Regions from separate parts of the Homo sapiens genome. Here region 2 is linked to region 1. Evidence: fine-mapped expression QTL. Tissue or cell type: prefrontal cortex. Region 1 holds a variant in brackets; the other region holds the start of a gene. All regions are shown on one strand. Distances are from middle to middle.

Region 1 (8,000 bases):
GATCCACCCACCTCGGCCTCCCAAAGTGCTGGGATTACAGGCATGAGCCACTGTGCCTGGCCCCTTTATTTGATAATTTACACATACATTTTTGTCCAAAACTCTTCTTTATTTCAAGATGATGTTTCTGTGGCTATGTGTGGTATGTGGTATAAATCTCAATCTATGGTCACACGAGGGGCATTTTCCTTGTTGTAAGTGTAGTCTAAACCAGTAGGAAGGAGGTTTAATTGCCAAAACCAGCGAGAACTCGGGCACTGTGGATACTACAGTGGGCAGCTGAACGAGGACCAAGGAGAATGTCTAAGAGGCCTCCAGCCCTGCGCTCAGTGAAGACAGGACAGGAACAACAGAGCATACATACCTTGGAAGGGTGTGTTCTGATATACTCGTATGGAAAGTTCTGACAGGTTTTCTCCCTGGGAAGTGCAGCACATACCCCAACACACTGGCTCTGCCAGTGTGCCAATCCCAGATGGTGCTTGCTTTGTGTGCACCCACACCCAAACCCCTGCCCTCCCATATGCTCTTCTGTGTGCCCAGGTAGGCCCTGCCCTCAGGCAGCAGCTTCTGAACACATTCCTCTTGGCGCAGACAAAAGAAAGTACTTCGTCTGTGGAATTCGAGGCTGAGCCTGAGTTCTAGCACAAGAAGACCGTTGCAGTCCAGAGATGAGAAACTGGACCAGAGGCAAATCATGAACAGAACGGGAGTCAAGAGAAGGGGTTTCTAAGATGGAGAAGTGGGGGCGGGTGTGGATCCAGTGGGATGTGGCTTCCCCAGGTTGCAACCCCAAGGAAGTCTCTGGAAGCAGCACCAGTCCTGATGGGGGAGCAGAAGAGCTGCCATCCTCAGTCAGGGTCCGAGTCAGGGTCCGAGGAGAGCTGCTGCTCCATAGTCTCGCACATGGCATCCTGCAGGGACGTAAGATGACCCCGGGGACTCATCCCCATTGGCTGGATGACTCTGTTCCTGTTGGGGAAAGGTGCAGTGGGGCTGGGGAAGGGGCCCAGTTGGCCAGGCAGGGGTCCTACTCACCCGTGGCTGCTACCTTCCTCTCTACCAAGTAGGCTGCTCCCATTTACTGGGGAAGCCTGGTTGGACCTTCTGTTAACTGGGCCCAAACCCTAACTGCTGCCTCCTGGCTTTAAGCAGTTTCCTATTTTAAACATCTAAATTGGCCTTAAGCAGGCTCTTAATTTGGACACTGGGCCATCTCCAATAAATCTGGCGACATTAGTCTCTTTTTTTTTTTTGAGACGAAGTCTCACTCTGTTGCCAGGCTGGAGTGCGGTGGCACAATGTCAGCTCACTGCAAGCTCTGCCTCCTGGGTTCAAGTGATTCCCCTGCCTCAACCTCCCGAGCAGCTGGGACTACAGGCGCCCACCACCACGCCCAGCTAACTTTTTTTTTGTATTTTAGCAGAGATGGGGTTTCACCATGTTGGCCAGGATGGTCTCGATCTCCTGACCTTGTGATCTACCTGCCTCAGTCTCCCAAAGTGCTGGGATTATAGGCGTGAGCTACCACGCCCGGCCTTAGACAGTCTCTTAATTTCTCTGGGCCTCAGTTATCATCTGTAAAAGGGGCACAATACTGATCTCAATATACCCATCCCCTGGGGGATTTCCTCCAGGGCAAGTGATTTCAAACGTGAGCAATGCAACCTAATACCAGGATCCTAAGCTCTCCTCTGATCCTACCTCCTGGGGCTCACAAGACAGGATGTGGGTCAGCTCTCCCTTCTCCCAGCTGCAGGCCCCTCCTCCTCATGCCACACACCTGGAGAGCTTGTCAAACATGGTCACCAGCTTCATGGCCTCGTGCTCCTTCTGCTCCTCTGTCATGCCCTCCATAGGGTTAGGCGGCTTCTCCTCCACCCTCCCGGTCACAGGGTTTATGCTGTTTCCCAGTGGGTGGAATGTGGGGAATGCATTAGTGACTCTCCAGGACAGGAGGCAAGCCACCTATTTTCCCAGTGGGGTGAGGTGGGCAAGGCAACTGCAGGAAGAGGCCTCCCTCCAGAAGCGGCACAGGTAACCAGCTCCTGCCATCTGCCACCTTCTGGTATCCCAGATAGCACTTAGGAACAGGTGCTTGATTCTGGAAGCTCTTGCCCATTTGTCATCCTGTCCCACCCTACAGGGGTCCACATGGGTGTGGAAGCAGGGACTATGGGGCTGTGAGTGGAGACCCGAGGGTGTGTTGGGGGTACACACCTGGCTTTGGCTTCCTTGTACTCATCTGTGTCTGTGTCCTCATCCTCTGAGTACTGGCCCTCGGGCCGGCCTCCTGCCATGAGGCCCCTGGCAGCCAGAAGGCCAGCAGCATTCCCATAGCCTGTGTACTTGATGAATCGGGGCACTGAGGGGCAAGGCAGAGGTCAGTGTGCAAGCCTGGCTGAGGTGGGGTGGGCTGGGACCTGGGTCTCCATAACTCACCACTCTCAGAGCACAGGACAAACAAGAACTCGGCAGCCACCCTCTTCACATCTGTGTCCAGGTGTGTCATGAGGCGGACAAGCTTGTTCCGCAGCATCTCCCCAACCTCAGGCCGTGTCCTCACATCCCGCAGAGGGGGCAGCACCTGGGGAGGTGGCCATCCCTAAGCTTGGGCTTAGAGCAGCCAAGGGTCTGTGATCAGGGCCGAAACCACATCCCCCAGGAGCACCAGCTCCTCAGCCTTATACCTGGGCCTTCAGGAACTTCCTGGCTGGGCGGTGCATCCGGGCACATTCAGTCAGCACGCTCAGCACGGGAGCTACACTCTCCTTCAGCCTGTGTGTCTGTAGAGGATTCTCTGTCACTGGGGCTATGCCCCTGCCTAACTTGTGACTGGCACAGAGTTACACCTCCCCACCACCCCTTCCCACCAACATACACAACAGCTGGTCCTGGCGGCAGAGGTTTGGGAAGAGGCCCCTCTGCAGTTAGTCAGCAGAAGGCCAAGAGTGGGTGGTGGGTGTCTGTGTCACTTTTGAAAAGGACAGGGATAGAGCGTAACTCAGAGGTACTCGTAAGCTTTGTGACTTGGGAGAAATAACTGCTTTAAGTCTAATTACTTCAACTATAAACCAGAGCTGGGAAGAAAACACAAAGCAATTAAAGCTTTAGACTCGCACACACATTGCCCTCAGATGTTGGTGGCAAAAAGAAACGAGAACCGAATCCCCGCTCTGTGTACTTCGTGGACAGAGCAGGGAGTTCTTGACCCTCCTAGCATAATGTGCCTGGACCCCAGCACCAGCAGTGGCAGCGACGGGCACAGACAACCCCCTAGCTGTGTGTCCAGTGCCAGCTCCCTATCCTGACTGGCTCGCAGGCACCTTGTGTGTCCCTTGCTTAGGCAGGTAGATTCCCAGGAGGTCTACTAAATCTCGGTTTATTGTACTCCAGCCTGCTTTCTGCAAGCTCCTGGAAGATGGTTAGAGCCCCAGCTGTCCAGATGCCCTGTAGTGCAGTCACAGCAATCAGAAGGAAGCTTTGATCTGAGGTTCCTATGGGTCTCCTCAGGATGCTGAGGGACAACTATGCTTGTAATCAAGGGCTGCCTGTGTTTAAGACTTAAAAGTAGGGACTGGGGGGCTTCTCTGGACCACTCAGTAAAGATCCCCAAAGATTTAAGAAGTGAAACCTTCAAGTGTGTGGAAGGTGTCCACATGCTTCTCATGGAGGAAGGGTCTGGCTTCTTGCCAGGCTGGACCACAGAACAACCGGAAGAGTCGCCCATATCACACCACCAAGACAATCTCCACGTACCAGTGTGGACAGTGTGGAAGCACTGACCACATCTGTGCAGGAGAACCAGTGCCAGAGCCACTGGGGGAGCCTGCACAGCCATCCCCAGCCTACCTTGTGCAAACGCTTCTCTAGGAAGATGAGGAGGGCACGAATCACATCCATATTCACTCCCATGAACTCCGTGGAGTCTCCATGTGGCTCCAGGGTGAGGAGAACATCCAGACACTTGAGGGGCAAGTTCCCCAGGAGGTTCACTGCGTGGCTGGGGACAGATGGAGGTAGGGGTTTCAACAGGGCTAATCCCTGAGCACAGGTGCAATCTTTGTGACTCCGCTGAACCACACATTACATGAGCTGGCATCTGAGTCCCAAAGGGGCAGCGCTAGGGACCAAAGCCAAGGGCAGGGACTGATCTGAGAGGCACTGCCACTCAGCTGTACAGTGG[G/A]GTCCCCTGGGGAAGTGGGGGCACTGAGACACACTGCCTCCCCGACCCTGTCTGAGCCAAAGCGCCAGACCATCTCTGGAAACCCAGACCAGCCTAGGGGCAGGTAGACCAAAAACGGGGACAAGGAACCAATGTGCCCTAGTAAGTACCATACTGTTGCCACTACCCAAGGCCCAGTTGGCACATTCCTGCCCCCAAATTCATGGCTATGTCCAGTCTCACTCACCCAGACAACGTCAGACTCTCTAGGGTGGGGCCTGGGCTCTCAGGTGGTTCTGGTTCAGAGCCGGGGTTGAGGACGACCATCTAGACATGTGGGCACACTTCCCTCCCAGAAAAAGCCCCATTCTCACCCGTGGAACTCCTCTGTGCGGTCTCCAGCAGTAGCGATCATCACACAGTGCCGGAGAAGGGTCCCCAGGTGTCGGTAAAGGGCAGCGTCTTCCTGACCAAAGAAAGAAGGGTTCCTGTGAGGAGCCCCACTCATCCCACTGCTGCCTGCTGAGGCTCCACTGTCTGTTGCACTCCAGGACTGTGTGGCAATGACTGTGCACCTCCTGTACTGCATACCTGGTCCCCTGGGGTCTTCCTAGGTGACTCTGGGTAGTGCTGGGGGCAAAAGATGACCACTGCTGTCTTCCTAAAAACTCCATGAGTATTCTTCTAAGAGCACTTCCCTGATTAGGAATGCTAACACATACCTTAGGGATGAAGTCACACTCTGTCTCAGCCCCACTCACAGCCTCATGGTGGAGGATCTCTTACAGTCTCCCCAGACACCACACAGCCCTCCTGCCAGGCAGCAAGAGCCAGAAGGGGCCTCTACTTCCCTCAGAAGCCTTTCCTGAGGTCCCAGCCCAGAACTGGCATCTCCTTGGCCTTGTCCCAACAGGCTGGGAGGTCCTGTCCTCTCCATGTCTGACACCCAGAAACCTGAAGGTACCCAGTAGGAAGCAGGTCCAGGAAATGTTGGAGCTGAGTTGAGACCCATCCATGGGTTAAGGTCAGTGCTCACCTCGTCCACCTCCCCCTTGATGGAGTCCAGGGTGATGTTGAAGAGCACTTTGAGGATCTCCATGGCCCGCTCAGTCTCTTGGGAAGGAAGGAGCGTGGGTGGGGGGTTCCCTTCAGGAGTCACCCCCAGCGTCAGCTCCAGTGTGTCAGTTAGCAGGCGCACTCCTTTCAGCTCCTGAAACAGCTGCTGGCGCACATCGGTGCGGAGTGCCGTTAGCAGGAAGAGGAGCCGCAAGTCAAAGAACTGGACATCGTGGGGGAAGCTCCTCTCACGGTACAGCCCCACACGCTCTGTGAGCTTCACCACTAGGCGGGCCTCTGCTGCCAGCATCTGTGCCACAGGGCTGCTGAGCACGAGGTTGCACAGGCACTTGAGGGACTCCAGTACAACATCCATGTCTGCGGACTCTGGGACGGACCCCTCAGAGACAGAGATGTCAGCATAGCAGGCTAGTGCCTGCAGGCTCTGGCGGCTGGTGAACGGGTCCAGGCAGTTGCGGTCCCGGGACAGGATTCGGACACTCTGCAGCCAGATGACACGGTGGGAGGGTGGCAAGCCCTGTTCCAGGACGGAGACCAGCAGCTCCGCCAGTCTCTGTGGGCAGGGAGAAGAGCGGCTCCACCAGGCCCTTCTTCCTGGGGCCACCCGTCCCTGCCCCTTTACCCCTTGGGCCAGCACCCACCTTCCGGTCCTCCTGTTGGGCATCATCAAACGTGAAGCTCTGGGAGTGCTGCAGAGAGAACTAGTGAATTCAAATCCACAGAGGGGTAGGATCCGCGTCCGCTGATGCGGGCGGCCTATTGGCCTCTAACTCAGGCAGCAGCCACTGCTCAGAACGGATGGCAGGGTCGGCACTCGCCCCCATCCCTACACGCCTGCCACCCAACGGGTGCACCCCCACTCTCCCCGCAACACTGCATCCCAGACCTGCCCCCCGCACCCCGCCGCGTCCCCTACGCTTGCTGACACAGCCTCTGCCTCACCCACGCCCTCCCTGCTACCCGCGCACGACCCTGCCCCACCCCCTCCGTGCCCGCCCCCCGGCCTCAGGCGGCCGCTTACCTCCTGGTTGTATGACCGCAGAGCTTCCATAATCACATCCTCCTCACCCGTCTCCACGGCTTCTGCAACCGCCCGGGGCTCCATGGCGCGCCGGGGAAGGCGGGACGGGCCCTTCCTCAGCCGTTCCGGGCCGCAGTTCGCCGGCCCCGCCCTGGCCCAGAAAGCCCCGCGCCAGCGCGCGGGGGAGGCCGGGACGGGGCGCGGCGTCTGGTGGCGCTTTAACGGGGCGCAGCGTCTGGTGGCGCTTTAAGGGGGCGCGGCCTGAGGCAGAACTGGCGGCTCGGAGGTTTTAAGACCCGAGTCGAGGGGCTGAGTCGCTCTGAACCGAACTGACCCCTCTCCTTGTGACCCGCGCTTCTTGGGCCAGAAGTTCCAACAGGAAACGATCTCAGCCCCCACCGTGCCCTGCCACACACACAGTGACGCCCCTCGAGCTCCACAGAACCGATGGGATGTAGAGGGGAAAGCCGAAGTGGAAAGGAATTTTCAGTCCTGGGCCATTGGGTTCGTTAGGCGTTTGCTGGGGAATGCAGGCGAACGGGATTCCCAGGTCCCTGCCTTTGTGGAGCTTATGTTCCAGAGGGGAAGGGGGACAAGGAAAAACAAAAGGACACGAGGCGGTCACAGGGCTGTGCTTCAAAAGAAGCAAAAGGCGACTGCTGGGCTGCAACGGGCTGTGAGGAAGTGCTGTTTTTGCTGACACCGGACGGTGGGAAGTGAGCCGGGAAAAGACTGGAGGAGCCACTCCAGGCAGAAGGAGCAGCACTTGCAAAGGTGGAGGGGCCGAGAGAAAGGGGAGCAACCCAGTCTGGCCTGGACTCAGTTCCCTCTTGAAAAGCAAAGATCCTGCGTGTCCGTTTCAGTGGCCGTCATGAGGATTCAGTGACGCACAGGAAGCGCGATCCACTCGCTCTTCTAACAAGTGCCCGGGAGCAAAGGCGTCTACGGCCCCCAGTCCCCGCGCCGCCTCCCAGTCTCTCTCCCGGCTTCACTTTCCTGTAGTGCGTTCTGTACGGCTGTATTCGACGCGGCGCGCACTCGCAGGCACGAGCGAGGCGCCGATCTCCACTTGACAGAGGAGGCACCCCTGCCCCCACCACACCCAGTGCTCCTCGCGGGCTTCTGCCCGAGGGGTCTGCTCCTTCCTCATGACCCGCCTGTGAATCCTTCCTAACCGTTAGGACCTAACCCACAGAAGCGTCTTTCCACCACCATCGTCTAGGCACTGAGCAAGCAAACGGCCCCGCCCCGCCCCACGTTCACAGGAACACCAAACGTCACATCCGCGGTGCTGCTGTAATCCCAGCACCTTGGGAGCCCGGCAGGCGGGGGCTGCAGTGAGCTGAGATCGCGCCACTGTCTGCGCGACAGTGCTGAAAATAAGCCACAGATATGCCCATCGCTTCCGCGCCCGGCAGTTCCCCACCCTCGGCCCTAAGCCGGAAGTCAGCGAGCCCGAAGCGGAAGGGGCTGGGCTATCTAGGGGCGTGGTCGGTGCGGAGGCGGGGCCATCGCTAGCTGGGGGCGGGGCCGGAAGCTCTTTCCCCGCGACTGCGCCACGTCTGAGGCGGCTGTGGCCGCGTCGGTGTCCGCGTCGAGGAGCCGGGGCAGGGCACGATGGCGGACTGGGCTCGGGGTGAGCGCGGGAGAGCGGAGCCGTTGGGGGCAGGGCCGGGCCGAAACCGACGCCGCTGCCTGTAGAGCCGCGTGCGCCTGCCTCTGGCCCAGCTGGGGTGA
Region 2 (8,000 bases), 26 kb before region 1:
AAATAAAATGGCATTTTTATTACAAAAGACTATTTCAAAGATATCTTCCTTATTAGAAGGAAATGTTTGAACTTTCCTGACATGTATTAATCTAAAAAATTACCTTAAAAAAGAAGCCCACTAAGTCCAGAAAGTCAAAATTACTTCTGGTGACTATAAATTCAAAAATACTATCCATTTTACACTTATGCTAGCTGGATCCCAACAAATTTTAAAGGTTTATTCTGTCTATGGGAAAAGTAAACTCAGATCTGCCAACCTAAATAAACATCACCTTACCATGAGGTTGAGGAAATATTTTGTCATGTGTAGAAAAGTGATTTAAAGATAAGAAACCAAAGGACAGAGATAAACAATTATGAATCATCTATCGTGATGATTTAGAACCTTAGGGAACAAGTATTAAGACAGGTCTCAGGCCAGGCACAGTGGCTCCTGCCTATAATCCCAGCACTCTGGGAGGCCAAGGCAGGCAGATCACCTGAGGTCAGGAGTCTGAGACCAGCCTGGCCAACACTGGTGAAACCCCATCTCTACTAAGAAATACAAAAATCAGCTGGCTGTGGTGGTGGGCACCTGTAATCCCAGCTACTTGGGACGCTGAGGCAGAAGAATCGCTTGAACTCGGGAGGTGGAAGTTGCAGTGAGCCAAGATCGCACCATTGCACTCCAGCCCGGGCAACAAGAGCGAAACTCCGTCAAAAAAAAAAAAAAAAAAAAAAAAAAAGCAGGTCTCATTTATCATTTTCCCACATAATCCAGAAGACTGAATGTTCAGCAAAATCTCCAGGCTTACAGATGATTGTAAGTTCCTCTGAATAGTAAAATGTCAAATTGATGGCTATAAACCACAAGAAAATCTTACAAGCCCAGGTGGTGGGGTAGCAAGGTGGTAAGCTCTATTGCGAGCATATAAAAGTAATGTATTCAGGAGAAATGACTCAAAATGTAATTATAAGCTATCAGTTGCAATGCTGGTATGAATCTCTGATTCATTCAGAATCAGAGAAAGCCATCATAGAGTAAGATGTCAGGAAAAACTTCAAAGAGGAGGCTACCAGTGAGCAAATTCGTGGGGATGTGTCAGGGGATCTGGGGAAGGCTGGGAAAGAAGGTGCGTATTTGTCTACTGCTGAAAAAATTCTAAAAGTCCTCTATTACAGAGGCAGCATGACACTATACAGGACTCTCCCTCCAATCCACCTACCCTCAACCGAAGTACAAAAGGTGTTTTATTTTCCACACTACCCAGGACAGAAGTGTCTGGGCAAGCAAGCAGTGCGGCTTAAAGAAGGGGAGTGATGGAAGTTATCTAAGATTCCCACAGATAGTAATCTTCCTCATACCTTACTCCACCCTCTAACTGGGTTTGAACTTTGTTTCTAAAACTAGAGTACTAAAAAGAAGCCTATGAACTAAGATACTTAGGCATGTTGTAAGATAATACTTTATGCTAGAATTTCAAAAAAAGCCAGAATGTCAGTGTTTGAATCCTCTTCTGCCACTTATCAGCAGTGATCTATGGTAAGTTACTTAAAGTCTTATGTTTGCTTCTACATCAAAAAAGTGAGATAGTAGTATCTACTGACCAGCGTTGTCATGAAGGATATGTGAAGCGCTCAGACCAGTACCTGACGTAAAGTGACTGCTGAATATTGGAGCTTATTATTATTATTAGCATAAAGCCTATCTTATTTTCAAAAGTCCTTGAGCACATTCATATAATCTAATCTGGTATAGCAAATTATTTACCTTAATGAGACCATCTCCTTGGGCAAAGCACGGATCCTGCACAAAATCAAGCACCTGAAGTGTCAGCTGATGCCACAACCTGAAAAACATACAGCCCTTAAGACCTCTAACCTAATATCCAGTCACAGACACCTCCAGCCTTGATGATTCTATCAAGTCACAAATACAGGTTGGGTATCTCTAATCCAAAACTCCAAAACTCCAAAATTCAAAATGCTCCAAAATCCAAAACTTTTTGAGCACCAACATAGGGCTCAAAGGAAATGACCACTGGAGCATCTCAGATTTCAGATTTTTGATTTATGGATACTGAACGGGTAAGTATATATCGCAAATATTTCAAAATTTGAAAAAATACTAAATCCAAAAAAACTTTTGCCCCAATGCATTTCTTTCTTTCTTTTTTGAGACAGAGTCTGACTCTGTTGCCCAGGCTGTAGTGCAGTGGCGCCATCTCGGCTCACTGCAACCTCTGCCTCCCAGGATCAAGTGATTCTCCTGCCTCAGCCTCCCGAGTAGCAGGGATTACAGGCATGAGCCACTGCGCCCGGCCGCCCCAATGCATTTCTGATAAGGGATACTAAATCCATACTAACCAGTCTCTACGGTGTAGCAGAAAGAATGCTAAAGCAGATGTGATAAACCTGAGTTCTTTTCCTGGCTCTGCTATTGAATGGCTATGTCACTTTGAGATCACTTAACTTCTCTAAGACTCAGTTTTCCCAGGTATGAAATGGAGAACATTAATCTAGATTAACTCAAAGGGTTATTGTGAGGTTTCACTGGAAACGAGAACTTTGGAATCATACATATCTAACTTGAGATGCTGGCTCTTCTACCTATTAGCTGAGTATCTCAGGGAAGGCAATTAAAATGAGCTTCAGTTTCCTCCTCTGTGAAAAGGATGAATAAAGGATTAAATAAGCTAATATTTAAAACCTCAGGGACAGTGACATAGCGCTTCATCCAAAACCCAAAGGCTAATATTTAATAACGCAGATAAAATGCTTTGAAAATTACCAAGTGCTATCCAACACAAACCATTATTTGCCAAACATTAATTTGCTCTCAAAAACTGCTAATAGCAGAAGGCTGCTGAATGCTAAACATCATCAAAACATGTATGGAACATCTATGTGAAAGGTATTATATTAAATGCTAGGGTTAACAGGGAGGTTACTACAGGAGATGTATTTTCTATGGAATAGCTCCAGCCCAATGCCAGCAATTTATTCTACTCATATTAAAAGGAGGTTAGTGCTTAGCAAGAATTTAATTGCTCTGCAATTCATCCTGTTTCTAAACAAACCTAAACTTTAAGATCTTTCTAGGGGCAGAAAGCCCATGAGAAATACAATGGAAGGTAAAGACAATGGGACGGCGGAAGTGGTTGCACCCCGTGCAACCAGCTGCAGAATGAATAGGGAAAACAGCAAAGCTGTACTAGCCTCTGGTTTATCAACTCCAGACCATGAGAAAGATAACTGTAGATACAGTTACACTATGACAAGGCTAAGCACGAATCACCAACATGTTTCCCAAAGTGGGTGGTGGCCCTGAAAGTGTGTTTGCTTGTTAGATGGAATCAAGAGCTAAAATCAAAGGCTACTCCTGAACCGTTTTAGTAAGACCCGAGGTAGGAGTTCAGAAGCCTCAGTCTCAGTCCCCCGTTAAGGAAGCAGTGAATCTCAGACCGAAACATCCTGGCTACAGCTCTTGGCCCTCGTGGTCTGTCATCCCTCTTATTCCTCGACCCTGCCACTCAAGGTTCCTCAGCAAACCTTGCCGGCACAGCCGGTCGCTACACGTCCCCGTTTCCCCCCAACTTGGGTCTGGGCGCCCTCAGCCCATCAAGGGTCCGCTCCTCCGCCCGCCTGCCCCCTCCGTCTCCCTCTATCGCCGGGGCCCAGGGCCCGTCTGCTCGGCGCTCACTTCTTCGTGTAGAGCTCCTCCAGACGGTGCCACACAGCGGGCTGCCCGGGCCCGGAGTTCTGGCTCTGCTGTAGGAAGCCCGGTACGTCCTTCATGACAGCAGGAAGACCCCCGGCACAGAAGAACAACCGGGATGTCAGCACCGCGGGGATGGCTGCCGGAAATGCTCACTCACTTCCGGCGCCGAGCGGCGCGGGGCAGGCTGGGAGCGCCGTAGCAGGCCGGGGGCGGGCCCCGCTGGTTGCTCGGTTACAGCGCGTCTCTGCGCTCCGGACAAAACTCTCCGGCGTTTGCAGCCCACTTCCCGCGCACTTGGCTGTGCCATTGAGGCGTCAAAGAGTGTGGGCGCCTGTGGTCGAACCCGCTACGGACTAGCTTTGTGGTGTCAGCCTTTGTGACCCGGAATTGCTCCTGTCAAATGAGGATCTTCCCAGTAGTGTTTTGCGAGGATTAGGTGTAAATATAATGCCTGACCATAGTAAAAGCGCTCAGAAAGTATTAACTATCACCGCCATCCGGGTTGAAAAAGGTGTGAGCGCAGGGTACAGAAATGCTGGCTCCAGGTTTGACCTCCGGGGCGAGAGATGAGACACCAGACTAGGGAACTTCCTCTACTCGCCTCTACGTCTACCTGGGCGCGCCGGAGGCGTCGGCAAGGAGGCGGGGGCGGGGCGCGGAGGCGGGACCGGGGCGCCGGGGGCGGGGGCGGTAGGCGGAGGCGGGGCTGGGGCGCCGGGGGCGGGGGTGGGAGGCGGAGGCGGGGCCGGGGCGCCGGGGGCGGGGCGAGTCCGGAGGACTCCTTGGACTGCGCGGAACATGGCGTTCTGGGGTTGGCGCGCCGCGGCAGCCCTCCGGCTGTGGGGCCGGGTAGTTGAACGGGTCGAGGCCGGGGGAGGCGTGGGGCCGTTTCAGGCCTGCGGCTGTCGGCTGGTGCTTGGCGGCAGGGACGATGTGAGTGCGGGGCTGAGAGGCAGCCATGGGGCCCGCGGTGAGCCCTTGGACCCGGCGCGCCCCTTGCAGAGGCCTCCCAGACCCGAGGTGCCCAGGGCATTCCGGAGGCAGCCGAGGGCAGCAGCTCCCAGTTTCTTCTTTTCGAGGTATTTTGGGCAAGGACAAGCACTTCTTGCGTGTTCGTTGTCGACACCTCGCCCACTCTTTCTCACCTTGCCGTGTTTCCTTTGCGGCATGTCTGGGAGTTTACGTGCGTTCCAACACCGGGGCCTCCGTCTTTATGCTGATCTGTGGACGTCACTTATGGGGGTTTTGTCGTTTATTTCACCATTCCCTCATTGAAATACGTTCTAACCTTTAGTTATTGTGCATCATGCTGTGGTGAATAACCTTGTTGGCACCTCACTGTTTGCATAAATTCCTAGTACTGGGATTGCTAGGTCCAAAAGTATATGCATTTAACGCTTTAATGATCCCTCATAAATGTTGTGCGGTTAATACTCCCACTGGCATGTGATCGTACCCGTCTCCATAGTAATTGCATCTAAGAACTGAGGCTACATAGGAAAAAATCTTAAGGTCCATGGTTGTTAGGTATCAGATGCCCTATAATGGATGAATATTTAAGTAAATAATGGCACATTGACTTGCTGTCTGACACAACTGCTGAAAATGTTGGTGAAAAGTGAGTCTCGAAGTGGTAGCTCACACTTGTAATACCAGCACTTTCGGAGGCTGAGACGGGGATCGCTCGAGGCCAGGAGTTCAAGAGCAGCCTGGGCAACATAACGAGACCCCCATCTCTACCAAAAATTTAAAAATTAGCCGGGCATGGTGGCGCAAGCCTGTTGTCCCAGTTACTCCTGAGACTAAGGCAAGAGGATCCCTTGAGTCCAGGAGTTCAAGGCTGCAGTGAGCTATGATTGAGCCACTGCACTCCAGCCTGGGTGACAGAGCAAGACTCTTATCTACCTGTGGGAAAAAAAAAAGAAAAAAGTTTAATAGATCCTGAAGAGTTGGCCGGGCGCGGTAGCTCACGCCTGTAATCCCAGCACTTTGGGAGGATGAGACGGGTGGATAACGAGGTCAGGAGTTCGAGACCAGCTGGGCCAACATGGTGAAACCCCATTTCTACTGAAATTACAAAAATTAGCCGGGCGTGGTGGCGGGCGCCTGTAATCCTAGCTACTCAGGAGGCGGAGGCAGGAGAATCACTTGAACCCGGAAGGCAGAGGTTGCAGTGAGCCGAGATGGCACCATTGCACTCCAGCCCGGGCGAAAGAGCAAAAACTCCGTCTCAAAAAAAAACAAAGATCCCGAAGAGTCAGTCGTTCATCCAAGAAGCCCTGACTGAGCTCTTATTCTGTGCCAGACTCTGTTCTAGGTGCTATGGATGGAGCAGGGACCAGGACCTACAAACACGTGGAGCGCATTCTAATATCTGTGATACTCTGCAAAACTGTTAAAACAAATCCTTGCGGCCGGGCGCGGTGGCTCACGCCTGTAATTCCAGCACTTTGGAAGGCCGAGACGGGCGGATCACGAGGTCAGGAGATCGAGACCATCCTGGCTAACACAGTGAAACCCCGTCTTTACTAAAAATACAAGGAAATTAGCCAGGCGTGGTGGCGGGTGCCTGTAGTCCCAGCTACTCGGGAGGCTGAGGCAGGAGAATGGCGTGAACCTGGGAGGCGGAGCTTGCAGTGAGCCGAGATCGCGACACTGCACTCCAGCCTGGGCAACAGAGCGAGACTCCGTCTCAAAACAAAACAAAACAAAACAAAACAAAAATCCTTGCTACCACTGGCCCTAAAGCAGGAGGCATAGGGCTGCGTGTGAGGAGTAGTCCATTGCATGGGCTTCCTCCAGTTTGGCTTTGGATTTTTGAGCTCTCTGAATTTGTTGTTTGTGTCCTTTGCACAGTGTCCCTCCCAGGTTGCACCCATGCCTGCCCCTCAGGGTCCCCCACTCCCAGTGAATTTCACACCATGCAGCATGTACTTTAAGCCATACATCTTACGTATGTTCCAGACATTTGGTAAAACGCCGTTTATGTGTTTTTCAGTGACTCACAAACATTTTATTTACGTAAATGAGGAATGTACTCAGGCACCCTTCGTGATACCTTGCCCTCAGCAGGCACTCAACAGCAATAATAACTTTCATTCCTTTTGTGCTTCTCTTAACAGTTCGTGTTTAGTAGGAGCACAGTAGCTGTTTGGGGAACGACCTTAAGTGAATAGATGTCTGAAATGCTGTGTGAAGTGGGGCGCTTAATAGGTGGTGAGATGGTTTTAGAACCAGGGTTTTCCCTCTTTGCTTCTTGACTCCTTAACCAGTTTTCATTAGGAGACCCCTTTGGAGGTTTGCAGTCAGTCAGAGTTGAGTGCCTACTGAGTGTACTGAATTATGAAATGAGCACAGTTCCCATTAACCTGAATTTTTTGCTCCCAAGTAAGTCTTGATTTCTGATTTATGACTGCTTTTTGTTGTACCCCAATAGTCGTCTAAGAAAGGTGATTATTTTGAGAGGCCTGGGGAGACACACATGCTCATTCTCGAGGGTGGCGGTGGTGCAGAGGGCAGAGCCATGCTCGTTCTTGCTATCCTGAGATTGGTTGCTATCTGTTTCCTTTGCTGCTGTGTTTTTTTCTGTCAGTATTAAAGGTGGAAGAAGGTCCATATCTTTTTCTGTGGGTGCTTCAAGTGTTGTTGGAAGTGGAGGCAGCAGTGACAAGGGGAAGCTTTCCCTGCAGGATGTAGCTGAGCTGATTCGGGCCAGAGCCTGCCAGAGGGTGGTGGTCATGGTGGGGGCCGGCATCAGCACACCCAGTGGCATTCCAGACTTCAGGTACTGCCCACAGTCCCACCTGCCTTCTGCGCTCCCCTCCCCTGACTCCTGCCCTCCCCACTGCCCAGTTTATTCCACTTCCCTGTCCTCTTCCAAAGGCCTCAGAGCCTTTCTTCTCTCCCTGCAGATCGCCGGGGAGTGGCCTGTACAGCAACCTCCAGCAGTACGATCTCCCGTACCCCGAGGCCATTTTTGAACTCCCATTCTTCTTTCACAACCCCAAGCCCTTTTTCACTTTGGCCAAGGAGCTGTACCCTGGAAACTACAAGCCCAACGTCACTCACTACTTTCTCCGGCTGCTTCATGACAAGGGGCTGCTTCTGCGGCTCTACACGCAGAACATCGATGGGCTTGAGAGAGGTGAGCCCTCTGTGAGTCGCACACATTCTTTTTCTCCCACGGAGGCTCGGGTGCCTGTTTCTCCCAGGGAGGCTCGGGTGCCTGTTTCTCACAGGGGATGCTCGGGTGCCTGTTTCTGGGGACGGCCAAAACCTATCGCTTATGCTTCTTCCTT

Direction of the effects. Alleles are on the strand shown, and positions count from the first base shown. SD is a standard deviation of normalised expression in the study named.
As copies of G replace A in region 1, the expression in prefrontal cortex of the gene that starts at base 4,487 in region 2 goes up (small effect, 0.30 SD a copy in GTEx).

Evidence for each region. PIP is the estimated chance that this variant, and not a neighbour inherited with it, causes the effect.
Region 2: it holds the start of SIRT3, and the variant in region 1 is fine-mapped to the expression of SIRT3 in prefrontal cortex (GTEx, PIP above 0.99).

What each region holds. Positions count from the first base shown.
Region 1 is chr11:207,202-215,201 of GRCh38, reverse strand. BET1L (Bet1 golgi vesicular membrane trafficking protein like) reads left to right here and starts at 7,803. Exons shown (of 4, transcript NM_001098787.2): 1 at 7,803-7,899. The coding sequence starts at 7,881. It overlaps RIC8A (RIC8 guanine nucleotide exchange factor A), which reads right to left and starts at 7,494. Exons shown (of 10, transcript NM_001286134.2): 1 at 6,264-7,494; 2 at 5,884-5,931; 3 at 5,202-5,795; 4 at 4,540-4,631; 5 at 3,853-4,003; 6 at 2,691-2,786; 7 at 2,443-2,587; 8 at 2,221-2,365; 9 at 1,784-1,903; 10 at 89-972. The coding sequence starts at 6,347. The coding sequence ends at 852. It overlaps SIRT3 (sirtuin 3), which reads left to right. Exons shown (of 7, transcript NM_012239.6): 7 at 1-172. MIR6743 (microRNA 6743) reads right to left here and starts at 5,866; the gene lies at 5,796-5,866. RefSeq lists enhancers at 5,626-6,213, 6,288-6,907, 6,883-7,052, 6,908-7,529 and silencers at 6,112-6,221, 6,292-6,581, 6,582-6,780, 7,842-7,961. The variant G/A (reference allele first, on the strand shown) is at 4,187.
Region 2 is chr11:232,829-240,828 of GRCh38, reverse strand. It overlaps SIRT3 (sirtuin 3), which reads left to right and starts at 4,487. Exons shown (of 7, transcript NM_012239.6): 1 at 4,487-4,781; 2 at 7,295-7,486; 3 at 7,614-7,846. The coding sequence starts at 4,501. It overlaps PSMD13 (proteasome 26S subunit, non-ATPase 13), which reads right to left and starts at 3,853. Exons shown (of 13, transcript NM_002817.4): 1 at 3,685-3,853; 2 at 1,753-1,831. The coding sequence starts at 3,779. RefSeq lists enhancers at 3,602-3,841, 4,002-4,191 and a silencer at 4,342-4,421.